4 linked regions of the Homo sapiens genome follow. The protein of the gene in region 4 purifies or fractionates together with the protein of the main gene of each other region. This does not show direct contact. Each region holds a gene or a part of one and is shown on either strand. Other genes may lie near its edges.

Evidence for each region. Proteins that work in one complex are often made in the same cells at the same time.
Region 1: the proteins of SLC9A6 (region 4) and POMGNT2 purify together in Homo sapiens (affinity purification with mass spectrometry; 3 studies listed by BioGRID and IntAct, with this or other methods). This does not show direct contact.
Region 2: the proteins of SLC9A6 (region 4) and ALDH3B1 purify together in Homo sapiens (affinity purification with mass spectrometry; 2 studies listed by BioGRID and IntAct, with this or other methods). This does not show direct contact.
Region 3: the proteins of SLC9A6 (region 4) and SLC19A2 purify together in Homo sapiens (affinity purification with mass spectrometry; 2 studies listed by BioGRID and IntAct, with this or other methods). This does not show direct contact.

The regions. Positions count from the first base shown.
Region 1 is NC_000003.12:43,096,080-43,099,579, reverse strand, and holds part of POMGNT2 (protein O-linked-mannose beta-1,4-N-acetylglucosaminyltransferase 2), read left to right. Parts: intron 1-3,500. UniProt on the Homo sapiens protein: O-linked mannose beta-1,4-N-acetylglucosaminyltransferase that transfers UDP-N-acetyl-D-glucosamine to the 4-position of the mannose to generate N-acetyl-D-glucosamine-beta-1,4-O-D-mannosylprotein.
Region 2 is NC_000011.10:68,013,327-68,016,826, reverse strand, and holds part of ALDH3B1 (aldehyde dehydrogenase family 3 member B1), read right to left. Parts: intron 1,531-3,500; 5' UTR 1,530-1,530; coding exon 1,368-1,529; intron 1-1,367. UniProt on the Homo sapiens protein: Oxidizes medium and long chain saturated and unsaturated fatty aldehydes generated in the plasma membrane into non-toxic fatty acids. May have a protective role against the cytotoxicity induced by lipid peroxidation.
Region 3 is NC_000001.11:169,468,945-169,472,444, reverse strand, and holds part of SLC19A2 (thiamine transporter 1), read left to right. Parts: intron 1-2,258; coding exon 2,259-2,481; intron 2,482-3,500. UniProt on the Homo sapiens protein: High-affinity transporter for the intake of thiamine. Mediates H(+)-dependent pyridoxine transport.
Region 4 is NC_000023.11:135,983,981-135,988,234, forward strand, and holds the start of SLC9A6 (sodium/hydrogen exchanger 6), read left to right. Parts: upstream 1-1,454; 5' UTR 1,455-1,497; exon of another isoform or gene 1,498-1,522; coding exon of another isoform or gene 1,523-1,678; coding exon 1,679-1,847; intron 1,848-4,254. UniProt on the Homo sapiens protein: Endosomal Na(+), K(+)/H(+) antiporter. Mediates the electroneutral exchange of endosomal luminal H(+) for a cytosolic Na(+) or K(+).

The DNA of each region.
Region 1 (3,500 bases), on a different chromosome or scaffold from region 4:
GACCTTTACCTGTCTGGGTATGCAGTGCCCACTGAACTGCACATGGCTTTGGGCCTGGCCATCACTGCCCATGGCTTGGAGGCCTCATGGTTTGCTGGACATTTGTGAGAACTAGACAGTGATGCTTGCTGCAGACAGATTTGTAGCAGTCATGAGTAATTGGGACATGTAGACACATAACAGAGATGCTCATCTTATCCTCCATCACCACCAAAACACCTCCAAAAACTTGCTCAAAACTCACCCACCCTCCAGCCAGCTTCCCTGGATGATCTCTTGTTGTGCACACTTCCTCGTGTTTCTTTGTGAATGTTTTATGCTTCCTATACTGGGTGTTTTTGGCTCTCTTGATCAGTTCAACCCTCTCAAATTGGGCCTGAGGGTCCATCTGGATTTGTGTACACACTGGGGTCTGAGCATTCCCTGTAAGAATTGTTTTCATTTGATTTTGTAGTTCCACCTAGAAAACCTGGTGTAGGCGTGTTCTCCATTACCTTTGTGAGCCACACAACAGAGGTTCCCACCGTTCTGTTCCCTGTTTCATCCCCGTTTATGACCACACTGGTACACAGTGATGCCAGAGAGGACCAATACAGGCACATGTCACTTCCAGGTGACCCATTTGTGCTAAGCAAAAGCCAGATGACACGGCAGGCTGTGTGGCAAGCAAAGGTTTCTGCGTTATTTGGAGGCTGAAAACCGGTGAGAGGGTTGCATATGAGCTGGTGGAAGGCCGAACGTCCTGCCCCACACTCAAGCCTTGGTTTATCCTCAGCAAAGACTGACATCACCCTTCTCACCAAAGTAGTACAGACTTGAATTCTGTTGGAGTTTTTCCTGCTTTGAAGGGGTTCCTTTTCTATTGATAAGGCAATATAGTCACAGTCATCAGCTATTGATGGTGGATTAATGTCTCCAGCTTTGACTTTGCTTTGCTCTTTATTCTAAAGCAAGAAGATACTACCCATGTCAAAGTTTTAATCTAAGAAAGTGAGCCCTTAACTAAATGTTAAATATGCCTTGATAATTAAATGTGTTAAGTTTTACAAGAACCACTCAGACTGCCAAGATTTTGCCAAAGGATAAATACCTTGGTCAGAAAACCTGATCTATAAATGCCGAATTTATCAATAGCATTAGGTTAATATTTAATTTAGGAGCAAATGTAAGCATTATGTTATTAATACCAGTTCCATATACTACTTCAGATAACCAAAAAAAAAGGAGGGGGAAAGAGATCATTCTGAGGATAAGCTTGAGTTAGTGAAACATGTTTACTCCTTACTAATTTACAACATGTAAGACAACAAATCAATACAGGACTGAAAGCTTCCACAATCTAGCACTAGTACTTCAGGCTGCATTTAGGACAAAAACACTTTTCAGTGACAAAATAAGATTTCTATAATTTTCAATTGGAAGTGTGAACAATCCTTAAAAGTCAAATTGCTGTGAAAGTAAAATATAAAACCTTCTGCACCGTTGCTGACCCCCTCCTGGCCTGGGCCCTGCCTGATCTTCTGCAGCCTGGGTCTGGCAGGTGCTGGCTGTCTGGTCCCTCCACCTCTGTAACCCTTCTTGTGGAGGAGTGACCGGTGAGCTGCTGGTTCTGGCAGTCACAAAACTGGGAACCCGGGCACAGGCCATGGTGAGGCCAGCAGGACAGGGGATTTGCTTTAGACCAGAGCTTGCAAATGAGCATCCGTTTTTAACTGGCAACCATGAGGCCAGCAGCCCCAGGCCTTGGTGCACGTTGTCTTCACTCAATTTGAATAATTGCCAGAAGTTACAAATGAGGACATTTCACATTTTAAATAGATTTTTGCTTCTCTGGGAAAATCAGAAGAGTATTGCTATGGACTGAATCATGTTCCCCCCATTTATATGTTGAAGATCTAACCCCCCTGTGATTGTGTTTAGAGATAGATCATCCTAATAATGAAGCTTAAATGAGGTCATAAGGGTGGGGCCCTAATCTGATAGGACTGGTGTCCTTATAAGAAGAGGAAAAGAGATCAGAGTGTTTCTCTCTCTCCCCACCTCCCTCTCCCGGCTTCCTTTCTCCCTCCCTTTCCCCCTTGCTCACCTGCCCCTCTCCTCCCTCCCCACCACACAGAGAAGAGGCCATCTACAAGCCAGGAAGAGAAGCCTCACCAGAAACCAACCCTGACAGATCTGTGAGAAAATTCTGTCATTTAAGGCACTCAGTCTGGTATTCTGTTATGGGAGCCCAAGCAGACTGATACAGATAGGTACCACCAGGCTGCTTTCCCGCCATTCTCTCATCAGCTGGCATTAGGTGTTCTGTCTCCAGGTCACACAGCCCACCCTCAGCTTTACTTTCTCCATTGGCTCCGGCCCTAGCAGGCATGTGAGTGTGCACCTCCTACTCTGGGCCCAGAATTCCTGGAGCTTTTACTCCTTATCAAACCTTAAAGCCCTTATGGGCTTTTCTGTGCCCGTGTCTGGGGCTGGCCAGGGCCCCCAGAAGTACAGCCTGCACCCAGCACCAATGACCACCCTCACGTGGTGAGCTCCCCAAGGCAAGTGGCCCCACCCCACCTGCCCAGCTGTTACTGGGGTCTGCAGTTGCAACAGCATTTTTGACATTATCCTCTGATGCTCGGAACAGCTGGGATCCTAGAAAGGAGGATTCACTAAGTCTGGGGATCTGATAACATTTAACTGCTCTTGGGAGCTTAGTAAAGTGGTTTGGGGGAGTGAATTGGTAGCTTCCTCCTGTCTGCCTCAGTTTCTAAAGGGATTTTCTAGGCATGTTTTTAATCTCTTGTTGATTTCTTTTTTCTCTTTCTTTTGAAAAAATTTTTGTTTTATCATGCTTTGTCCTGGCTGAGCCACTAAGCCCTTTGTTCCCCACTCCAGTTGGTCTCTAAATTTGGTGCCCAATATAGAGGAGGCAGAGGCAGATAAACATGGTGGTGTTGAAGTACCCTGGTCTGTGTGGCCCTGGAATGCCAAGAAGGTGAGGTCCAAATGGTGCCTGGGCTATTAACATAAGACAGTGCTTAGAATCCATGTTCAGATCCTGCCTCCATTCTGTACATGCTGAGGGACTTGGACACATTTACTTAGCTTCTCCCAGCCTCTGTGTCCCAATCTATAAAATGGAGTAATAGAAATAGTGTTAGCCTCTTAATGTTGGTTTGAAGATTGAATGAGAAAATATACCTACAGTGTTCAGTATACTGCCTGGAACATAAAGTGTTAGAGGCTGGTGATTTTGAGTGTGTTTTTCAAGGTAAGAGTGGGTTCATATTTAATAGTTGTTGGTAATCTGGGAATCAGTTTCAGGTGCCGATTGGATCCTTGGTAGCAGGATGGGATGGGAGGTACAGCACGGGAATCAGCTGCTGGTCCCAGAGCAGTGGAGGGGCCAAAACTCCGCTTAGGGCACGAGTAAGAGGAGTGATAGGAAGAGGCAGCTTTTCCTAGTTTGATTACCTCCGCTTTTCTAAAGGAAAGCAAACAAATAAGGATCA
Region 2 (3,500 bases), on a different chromosome or scaffold from region 4:
TCATGAAGGCCGGCAGGCGGCCGGTGGCAGAAGCTCAGTGGTGGCGGGGGAGTCAGTCCCCAGGGAGCCCAATGGGCTGGGGGAAGGTCTGAACACTACAGCCTTCAAGGCAAAGGGAGGAGATATTTTGTCCAGAGAATAGGAGCCGGGGGCAGCCCCTGGGGCAGATGTGCTGAGGCAGGGGCAGGTGGTGTCCTGAGGCAGGGGCAGGTGTCCTGAGGCAGGGGCAGGCAGGTGCATGGGCCCTGATGGGTGAGGGGTTGGGGGAAGTGTGTTTCTTGGGGTTCTGCCTTGGCTGCCACTGGGATTGGGAGGGGCTGAGGCCCCAAGCCTTCAGGGTCTAGACAGAGGCCATGATGCCTGCTGTACCCAGAGAGAAGGCCAAGGCCTCACGGCCTCCGAGGCCCTACATAGTGTGGCCCATACCCCAGACCTCATCTTTGCTGTTTCTTCCTCTCCCACCCCCGACAGCTATGCTGGCCTCCTTGCTGCTCCTCAAGCAGAAACACCCAGCACCTCCTGCCTCAGGGCCTTTGCACGTGCTGTGCCCGCTGCCATCTCCCCAGCATCCATGGGGAGCCTCCCCTCCATCTTCACGTCTCTGCTCTAAAGCCCCCTTCTCAGAGAAACCTTCCCTGACCCCCACATATACAACAGCACCCTGATCCTGGCCCCCTCTCTCCCCTTCACCCTGGGTGTGTCTCCAGGGCACATATTTCAACCCAATATGCTGTGTAATTATTATCTTTATTATTATTTTTGAGATGGAGTCTCACTGTGTTGCCCAAGCTGGAGTGCAGTGGTGTGACCTTGGCTCACTGCAACCTCCACCTCCCAGGTTCAAGCGATTCTCATGCCTCAGCCTCCTGAGTAGCTGGGATTACAGGTGCCCACCACCACATCCAGCTAATTTTTGTATTGTTAGTAGAGACGGGGTTTCGCCATGTTGGCCAGGATGGTCTTGAACTCCTGGCCTCAAGCGATCCGCCCACCTCGGCCTCCCAAAGTGCTGGGACTACAGGTGTGAGCCACCATGCCCGGCCTTGCTGTGCAATTATTTATTTGCTGTTTTATTGTCTCCGATAGAAGGTCATCTTCGTAGGCATGGGAACTGTGTTTTATTCTCTGCTATATCCCCAGAGCCTAGAACAGTACCTGGCACATAGTAGGTGCTCAGCAAATAGTTGCTGCATGAATACAGAAATAAGTGACTGGATGAATGTGCAAGGGTGGCTCTGGCCTAGGGGAGGAGCTGCTTTTAGCCCCGCTTCATGGAGGGCGCAGGTGTCTTCATCCCCTGCTGTCCCAGCTGCCCTCCATGCCCCCCTGCCCCAGTGCACCCTCTCATACCCCCAACCCCAGCCCACCTTGTGCAGGTCCTGGGCCAGTGCGTCGTGCAGAAGCTGCTTGTTTTCTTGCAGGAAGCGGCCCAGGCCTTGGAGCTGCGCAGCCCGGAACTCAGCTGGCCGCGTGCGCCCCGCGTGGAAGGCCTCCCGCAGTCGCCGCAGCGTGTCCCCAAGGGGGTCCATCCTGCCAGATGGGGTGGCATGAACTGGGTGGCCAGGGCTGCCCCTCCTTCATGGGCACCACCCAGCCGCCCCAGGGTCTGGGCACCCCTGACCTGCCTGCACCCACAGGGGCTTGCAGACACCTCTACCTTATACACACACAGGGACCCACTCAGATGACCCCACAGGGACTGAGGCTGCCTGCAACCCCTTTCACCCAACAGTGAGCACTCCCAGACACACATGAAGACCCTCGCACCACTCCCCTCTGCCATGGACCTGGAGGCGGCTGCAGGACTGGGTGTGGGCTTGGGGACAGCTGCTCCACCACAGCCCCCGAGGGTGAGCAGGCAGGCAGAGCGCCATGCTTCTTCCTGCCGCACAGAAATTAACCCCAAGCCATGGCCTCTGCCCTGCCCTGATGCCCCTCCTGGAGGCGGGGCAGCCTCACCCCTGCCAGTCTGAATGGTGTAAGCAGGAGCTTGATGAGTAGAGGGGGTGACTCACTGCCACCATGGCCACCACCTTGGAGCACTCCAGACACAGAATTCTCCGTCTTCCTCTGTCCCCAGCCTGGGGGCACTGCCCAGGGAGGCCAGGCCAGTGGGCAATAGCCTCTTCTCCCTGTGCCTCAGCTTCCTCAGGAAGAGGGGGAGAACACCTCGGGCCTCCTGGAGGCCCTGCTGCCCACCCTGCCGGGGCTGTGGTGCTGGGAGGCAGAAACAGCTGTGGGGGAGAGGATCAGGGCGGGGGAGAGGGCGTTCCTGCCTCCGTGCTGGTGCCAGCCAGAGCTGGCAGGCAGGGTAGGGGCCTAGACATTCCCCCGAGCCCTGCCTGTTTACTTGAAGTTCATCGGAGGAGCACTCTGACGCACTCGTTCCTCGGCCTGGTGCCAAGGACCCGTGGTGACCCTTTCCTCCTTCCCTCTCCGAGTCCCTTTCCTCCAGATCTCAGCTTGGCTGATGCTTCCTCCAGGCAGCCCACCCAGATTATGCCCTCATCCACTGTCACAGTGGCCCCTTGACTCTGCTCCCCAGCGTTCTGAGTTGTGCCATGTGATAAATGTCTGGTTACACTCTACCCACCTCCCAACCCTGTCCACATCTCCCTTATTTCCCCCTCATTAGACTGGGAGGCAGGCCCCTCTGTGCCTACTTATTTGAGACCTAGTGCTTGAAGCCTCTCATGTTACCGGTGTAATGATGGCACCTGCCAGCTAATGATGAGACCACACAGTCGGTTCTGAGCCCAGGGCCCAGCATCGGTGAGCGCAAGGCTGTGGGTGATTGTTAAGTGGCCACCTTGAGGGCGGGACCTGCTCCGGTCTGCAGGATGGCCCTGCTGGACCAGTGTGCTACTGAGAGCCTGGTCAGGAGCCCCAGGCCAGCCCTCAGCTGGAGTGATTGTGGGGCCAGGCTGAACCCACCATCTTCCTGCTCTGATTGGGAGAAGCTGGGCAGTGGCCCGCACACAGGACAGGCACCATGGTCCCCATAGGGGATGGCTCGTCACGGGAGCAGGACTGAGACCCAGGAGCCAAGAACGAGCCTCTCGAGCCACCATCAGGCCTGTCTCCGGGCTCTGCCTCTTACTGGTTGTGGGACCTTGGGCAAATCACTCACCTTCTCTGCCTCGGTTTCCTCATCTGTGAAATGGGGATGCTAATGGCACCTGGTGTCATTGTGAGGATTAAATGACATCACGCTGCATAAAACATTTGCTGTTGTGCCCACAGAAAGTACTCGACAAAGGTCAGCTCTGGGTGTTTTGCTAAGTAGCCTGCAAATATTTATCTCCCTCAACTCCGCACTCTCCTGGGTCCTTCTCCATTCTACTCTCACCTTCAGACTTCTGCCAGTGGTCAAAGGCAAACCACGCCTGTGCCTCTCTCACCCTTTGTAAGAATCTCTGCAGAAACCACAAAAATGCAAGGCACGTAACGTGAATGGTGGACTGTGGGCCGGGAGCTCTGTGGGGGATGGAGTTCTGCAG
Region 3 (3,500 bases), on a different chromosome or scaffold from region 4:
TCTTATCAGTTTATGGTAGGATTTCTAATAGAAACTTGTGAATCCTTTTAATAGTTCCATTCTTCCAGGAATATACTTTCTTTTCTTATAATCCTTCCAGCATCCTTGAAAGTTTTAGATATCCCAGTTGTTTTCCAAGTTATATTGGTTAAGCAACTGAAGCTAAATAGTAAAATTCTGATGTAGTTCAATAAAACTGGTGGACCTTGAATAAAGACTTATGAAAATGTGCTTGGTACCATTCACTCACTCTTAGCAAATTCACATTATATATGATTAACAATTGTCTTGTGATTTGTTTAAATTCACAAGGTTTGCTCTCATACACAGTGCCAAGAAATCAATCTTGTAACAGCAGTATGTTGTACTTCTAGGTGGTTATCTTATGCAAATTCATCAAGTAGAATTTTCAAGTGTCGGTACTTCTTTCTCTGAGTTATTTTGATTAACCTCAGTACTCCTCCCTGAATTTTGGAAAGGGGCTGTAGTAATGGTACTTGAAGGATATCCCCCTCTGGGCTAAACAGCACAAAGAAGGAAGCACCACACTGGGGTTGCTTTGGGATGGTATGAGAAGGTAAAACAACGATGAAACTCGGATTCTCAGTCCAGTGAGGTTTTCTAGCCTCTGAGGGAGAAAATGGCCTTTATTTAACTAATGTTGATGGTCACTGTTACTGTATATAAGAGGAGAAAATATCTATTAATTTTATAAAAATGATATATATGGTGTGTGTGTATATATACACACACACACACACACACACACGTTTGTTTTTTGAGACAGAGTCTGTCTCTGTCGCCCAGGCTGGAGTGCAGTGGCGTGATCACGGATCACTGCAGCCTTGATCTTCTAGGTTCAAGTGATCCTCCCACCTCAGTCTCCTGAGTAGCAGGGACTACATGTGTACACCACCACACCCAGCTAATTAAATTGTGTGTGTGTGTGTGTGTGTGTGTGTGTGTGTGTGTGTGTGTGTGGAGACGGGATCTTACTATGTTGCCCAGCTTGATCTTGAACTTCTGGGTTCAAGCATTTCTCCTGCCACGGCCTCCTGAAGTGTGATGATTCCAGGTGTGAGCCACTGTGCCTGGCATCTACTTATTTTTTTAAATTAAATGTTACAGAAAGCTATATAAAAAATAAAAAATCACCTGAACTACTACCACCCAAAGATTAGTGAACTTCTTTTCAAACATCTCTTTTCCTATATACATATGTACGTATACATTTTATAGTAAATGAAATTGTGATCTACATGTAGTCTTGTAACTTGCTGTTATTTTACTCAGTGGTATATTGTACTCATCTTTCCATGGCTCTCATTTTGCCTTTCCATGTTAGCCACAAAAGTAAAATTTTCTGTGGGTTTTTTTTTTTTTTGGTAGAGATAGGATCTCACTTTCTTGCCCAGGCTGGTCTTGAACTCCTGGGCTCAAGCAATCCTTCTGTCTTGGCCTCCCAAAGTGCTGAGATTATAGACATGAGTCACTACACCCGGCCTTCCCATGTTCTGAGCAAGGCCCAGGGATTACAGTAACCTTTGGTAGATTAGTCCTTTCATACAGTTGAAATCAGAGATATCTCACAGAGTGTCTGACATCTCATATTGACTTCTTGGGATAGTGCGTAGCTCAGTAATGTCTTGCTTCACTCAATTATAAGCCCAGTAGCTTTATTTATTACTTTATTATAATACTATTTCTCATTGTTTAAATATTAAGTAATATAAAAAGTTTAAGGAAGAAAATTTAAATCACTAAGAACCCACCACCTAGAGAGAACTGCTAATATTTTGGTCTACTTCTTTCCAATATTTCTATCTTAACTGTTGGATCAGTCTGTCAATTATAACGATAGGAGGCCTTAACTGAATAGTGATTTATTAGGGTTGCTAGTCTGTTGCTTATTATTATTCTTGTTATGTTGTTTGCCAGTTTATGGGAGATGTAGATTACAGACTCCCATTGGCTGAAGCCTGCGGTCTCTTTTCATCATCTTCATTTTGTAAACAGTACATCTTTTGCTGGGTTGATTACATACAGCTGTGTTAATGCTATAGTGCATTTAAAGCAAAAATCCTATGAGAACATATTTTTCGCCAGAGGGGATAAATGTATTTGTTAATAAGTTTATGAAGTAAGCAGTTAGTTTTCACAAGGAAAAAAGTCTGTTAGGTAAGTAATTGGGCCTGTAAATTGCTTTCTATATAATTGCCTTCATCAGAGTTTGAGCATTGTTCCCTTTTGCTATGTAGGAACCCAAGCCAGACCGTCTCCTTGTATTGAAAGTACTATGGAATGATTTCCTGATGTGCTACTCCTCTCGCCCTCTTCTCTGCTGGTCTGTGTGGTGGGCCCTCTCTACCTGTGGCTATTTTCAAGTTGTGAACTACACACAGGGCCTGTGGGAGAAAGTGATGCCTTCTCGCTATGCTGCTATCTATAATGGTGGCGTGGAGGCCGTTTCAACCTTACTGGGTAAGCAATGCAGGATAATAGAGGGTCGTGGTGGGGGAGGGATTCCTCTGGTAGTTAAGCCAGCCATAATCAGATTTATTCACCCCTCCCAAATTTGAAATAGCCTCAAAAAATGATTATTTTGAGCTAGATTTTACAATTTAGGAGGACAACTTAGAAGTACTCAAGTGGAGCAGGACTATGACTAACAAACTGGAATTTTTTTATAAGCTTTGAGTAAACCTAATATAATAATTTTCAAGATTGTTTATCCAAGTTTCCATTATCTCTGTATTTACTGGGTAGTTTTGTCACTTGATGTGAAATTTTGAATGGCAATATATAATAGTTTATAACAATAGTATCTAATATTTGTTGAATGTTAATATGTGCTAGGTACTGTTCTATGGACATTATATACATTAACTCAATCCTCACAAAATTCCTGAGATAGGTAGAATTTATCCCCATTTTGCAATGGAAACTTGGGACTGGTAGGTTAATAACTTGCTCAAGGTCATATGGATGGTAAGTAGTAAAGTCAAGACTTGAACTCAGGCAGGATGGCTTCAGAGCCTGTGTATTTGACCATCTTACTCTATTGTTCATTTCTAATTTGTTGACCTACCTCCTGAGGTTGTTGGATGGTGTTATATGATTTCTGTAAACACTTATTATCTGTCTTGGCCCTCAGAAAACACTTCATAGATTTTAGCTATCCTTATCATCATCACTGTTTTACCAAAAGGCAGAGAAGCCCTTTTGCCATGTTCTAGACTGCTCCTTGGTTTGAAGGAGAGATGACTCATCCTGCCATGATGCCAAATTAGAAGCTATGGTTCTTTTTGACTCTTGCCTCTGCTTCAGCTGCAGCATTTTTTTTCCTTAGCAATGTCCCTGTGTCTTTGTCCTGCATTTTCATCTCATTGCCACCTCTCCTAATTCAGTCTGTCATCTCAGTGGCTCCATTTTATTGATTCCATCAAGTTCAGAAATTTCTGTGTGAGTTTCAAGGCCCTCCATAATCTTGAGCTATTCTG
Region 4 (4,254 bases):
AGAGAATGGGCACACAGTCACTGGCTCTGATTTGGGACAGTTCCTGACCTGACAGGGACAGAAAGTGGAATTGGACATCGTTTGAGTGCTTTTTTTGTTTAGCTCATCATCCTGAGAGCTTAGAGAGCTGGTTAGTGAGGGTGAATACACACAGGGGCAGCTTGGAGTTGCCTGAGTATTACTTGTTTTAGCAAGGAGGTTATATGGCCATGAGATGGAAAGAACCATTTGAGAATCATGAGTTCCAGGCAGAATGATAGGAATTGAACTGACAGTGGTACCACTGATGGTATGAAGAATTTGAGAAGGAATTTGTACTTGCAGGGGGAACTCATTTCAAATGAGCTCATTTCAAAATATTTTTAGTTTTGAGGGTGGTAGGAGCCTCAACAGGGTATGCTCAGAATCCAACAGGTAGAGGCCTGAAGTTGGGGCAGCAGGCCAGGGCTTGAGACTTGTAGATCATTCATGTTGAAATCAAAGTCTTGAGAAAACAAAGAGCCCACACAAACTAAGGAGCGATCGGAGAAATACAGAAAAAATAGGAAGTCACTGTTCTCAAAAGACAAAGCTCCAGTATGGAGGTGAGAACTGTGAAAATTCTGGTGAGAGAGGTTGGACAGGCTGAGAACAGAAAAAAAATACTGTCCTGAGGAATACTAAAGAGGAGAGATGAGAGATAGGGGTCAAGGGTGACTTCGGAGCTGGGGACATTTGCTTTAAAACAGCAGTAAAAAGGAGCAAGAGGAGAAGGAGAAATCCACCACACCACCCAAGATTTTTTCTTCGGGAGGGAAGTGTTTACGAGCATTGGGAAATCTAAGCACAAACCGATCCAATCTTTGCTGTAAGGTTGATGAGTTTCTGTGTACAGATTCCTAGCGTGAGAGATGACTTATATCAGATGTTTACATGTAAAGAAAACCGACTACACAGACACACACATAATCCATACCTTTGAGTCGATTGTTTTATGAACTGCTACAGTGCTCTGTGTGTGTGTGGTGTTTTTTTGTGTTTTTTTTTTTTTCTTTCCCGATGAGGACAATACAAGGAGAATCCGATTTAAATTTAAATTACAGAGATGGAGATTGAGGCTCCTCCCAAGGGGACAACTTATCCTGTTAAGAGACACTGGGGGACGATATTGAGATGGGTTATGAAAGATCAATTCCTATGAAAGATCAATTCCCCTGAGAGCTCTGAGAATAGGATCAAAGTAGAAAGCGCAGTCTGCCTCTGCTTGGTTACACTGAGCCGATGTTTCTTTAGCCAAAGGCAGTGGGCTAGTTTAGACGGCCTTTCATTCCCGGCAGCGCCTGTGGGTGCGTGTGACCTGGGACAGAGGGGCAAAGGAACCTGGCAGAGCGAGCTTGGGATGCCGCGGCCCCTTTAAGAGCGGCGGCGGCGGCGCGCGCTCCGACGGCTACCCCCGGGCCCCGCCCCTTTCCCGTGAGCCCTCGGGGAGTGGTCCGACCGCGGGCGGCCGCCGGTGAGGTAGGGGCGGGAGGCGGGGGGAGACATGGCTCGGCGCGGCTGGCGGCGGGCACCCCTCCGCCGTGGCGTCGGCAGCAGTCCCCGAGCCCGCAGGCTCATGCGGCCCCTTTGGTTGCTCCTCGCAGTGGGCGTCTTTGACTGGGCAGGGGCTTCGGACGGCGGCGGCGGAGAGGCTAGAGCCATGGACGAGGAGATCGTGTCCGAGAAGCAAGCCGAGGAGAGCCACCGGCAGGACAGCGCCAACCTGCTCATCTTCATCCTGCTGCTCACCCTCACCATTCTCACAATCTGGCTCTTCAAGCACCGCCGGGCCCGCTTCCTGCACGAAACCGGCCTGGCTATGATTTATGGCAAGTTCCTCAACCCTTGTCAGCCCCTTGGCGCTGCCCCTTTCTCTGCCCGCCGGCTGCTTCGCCTCCTCTGCTGGCCCTGCTCGGCCTACGTTCGGCTCCCCTTCTAATTCCTTCCATTTTCTGCCTCGCCTTCCCCCTACCCCGCGTTTCTCTGCCTCACCCCCTTTCCTCTTCAGCCTCGCGCCCCATTTTATCTGCCTCTCCACACCTTTTTCGCTTCCGACCCCACCCCCTTTTTCCTCCGCACCCCCAGCCCCCCACCCTTTCCCTGCCTACCAAGCTCGGGACCCGGGGCTGAGGATGGAAAACGAGTGGGCGCGGTGTCTGGAATTGGGCTGGGGGCTGGGGGAGGGGAGACACCATTGCGATCCATTTCTCTGGGGTGTCAGTTTGTTTAAGGTTCATTGAAACTGCAGTAGTATCTCTACTGCCCAGAATCTGGCGTTCTTTTGGAGCCAGAGTCGACCTTTACTCAACACCTAGCTCCTGCTACGCCCTGTCCTTTCGAGGTTGCAAAGGAAAATCTTATTCTTGTGGAGTCCGAAAAAAAAAACCCGAACGTGAAATAGGCTACAGAAGGCTTAGGGCATTTTTAATGACATCCCATTTATTGTACTATGCCTCTAATATCTGATATGGATACCTGTGGTTGACCCTTCCAATTCAGGCATACAAAAGTGAGGACGAGGAAGAGTTAAGGTCCTTCCAGAAGTATAGTGTACTATACGATGATCAGGACAGTTCAGACAAACAGTAATTACAAACACCATGCATATGCAGTATGGGTGACTTGCTGTTGGCATGAGGTTATTGACCGATTGTAGAATAAATGGCTTCGATTCTTGTGTCTCAGTCTGCTTTCTGAGGTTTATTATTATTATTATTATTATTATTTTGGTGACAAGGCGAGAAGGGGTAAATCAAAGTGTGGGCTCAGAGGCATTTTGAGCTGTGCTGGGGCCTCAAGAGGAGAAAAGATACATATTGCCGACTGTATTAATCTGTGCGGGTATTGCTAAAGAGATGAGGGCGGACAAACAATTCTTTCTGTGCAGTACATGTGTGAAGATTATCTTCATTTGGAGCAGTTAAACCGATGAGCTTGTTGAGGTTTGTCTCTCAGACTTGCAGATAGGTAGATGAAGCTTTGGCACAAAAGACATTGCTCCATGCAAACCCCCGCCCCCTAGTAAATCCAGACTTCTGTAATGTGCATCTCTCAAGGATAGCAAGGAAAGGTAGTTGTGTGCCTCAGGAAGATGCATGAACTCAGGCTTATTTTTCATTTTTAAGAGAATACAGTTCTGAGCCTGCGTGTAAAATATCTCTGCTCACTAAGATTCCTAGTTTTTAGACATATTAGATGGTTTTTATATTTAATATGTTTTGCATTTCATTTGCAGTGCACCTTAAGCCAAATTGGCCAGATAAGCTATATATTTCTATATAATTTTCTGCATAACAGTGTGTGATTTATTTACTATCCTCAACAAACATTTGTTGATAAACCTTCTATGTATTATGCTCAGAAAATACAAAGAGGTATAAGATCTTTGCCTTCAAGTCACTTATAGGCAGGTCATATAAAGAAAATAATGGCATCTTAAATTTGGTTAAATGCCAAATGAGTATTATAAAGTAATGAACTGATCAGAGATACTTCTTTTATAGAGAGAGATAGTATGATGTGGTAATTAAAGGTACAAGGCTTTAGACCAGAGGTCAGCAATTTTTTTTTTTTTCTGTAAAGGGCCAGGTAGTAATGATTGTTGATCTTGTGGATACGTAGATCTCTGTCGCTGTTGCATTTTTTTTCTTTGATTTTTTTTTCTTTTTATAAAGTTTTACAACATAAAAACTATTCTTAGCTCTCGGGCCATACAAAAACAGACCAAGGGCTGTAGTTTGCCAACCCCTGCTTTAGAATCAGACCTAGATTCCCGTCACACTCTGCCCATAGGTATGTGTGATCTTAGACAAGTCCCTTACTCTCTTTTACCATCATCTATATGTTAGGGATGATGATAGTAGGATTACTGTGAGGAAGAAATGTTTTTAGACTAGTAACTGACCCTTAAGTAAATGCCCAAGAAATGATAGCTGTGCTATTATTATTATTATTGCTGTTACAACTGCATTTTCTCAGATTAGGCCCAGAACAACTCTTTTAATTGGTCAGTCTCATAAGTCAAGGGACAAATACAGTCTTTTTAAGAGAATCAAATAGGGGCTTTGAATTGCCCTGGAAATATTTTCTCTTTGGTAGCTGGTATCATTAACCTCATCTAACTCTAGGACTGAAGTAGAAAAGGATTACCGATTGCATTTTGTGAGGTTTCTAAGTTAATAAAAAGTGATAGAGCACCTTGGTGTTAGTATTTTTTGAAGGAAAAACAAGGGTATC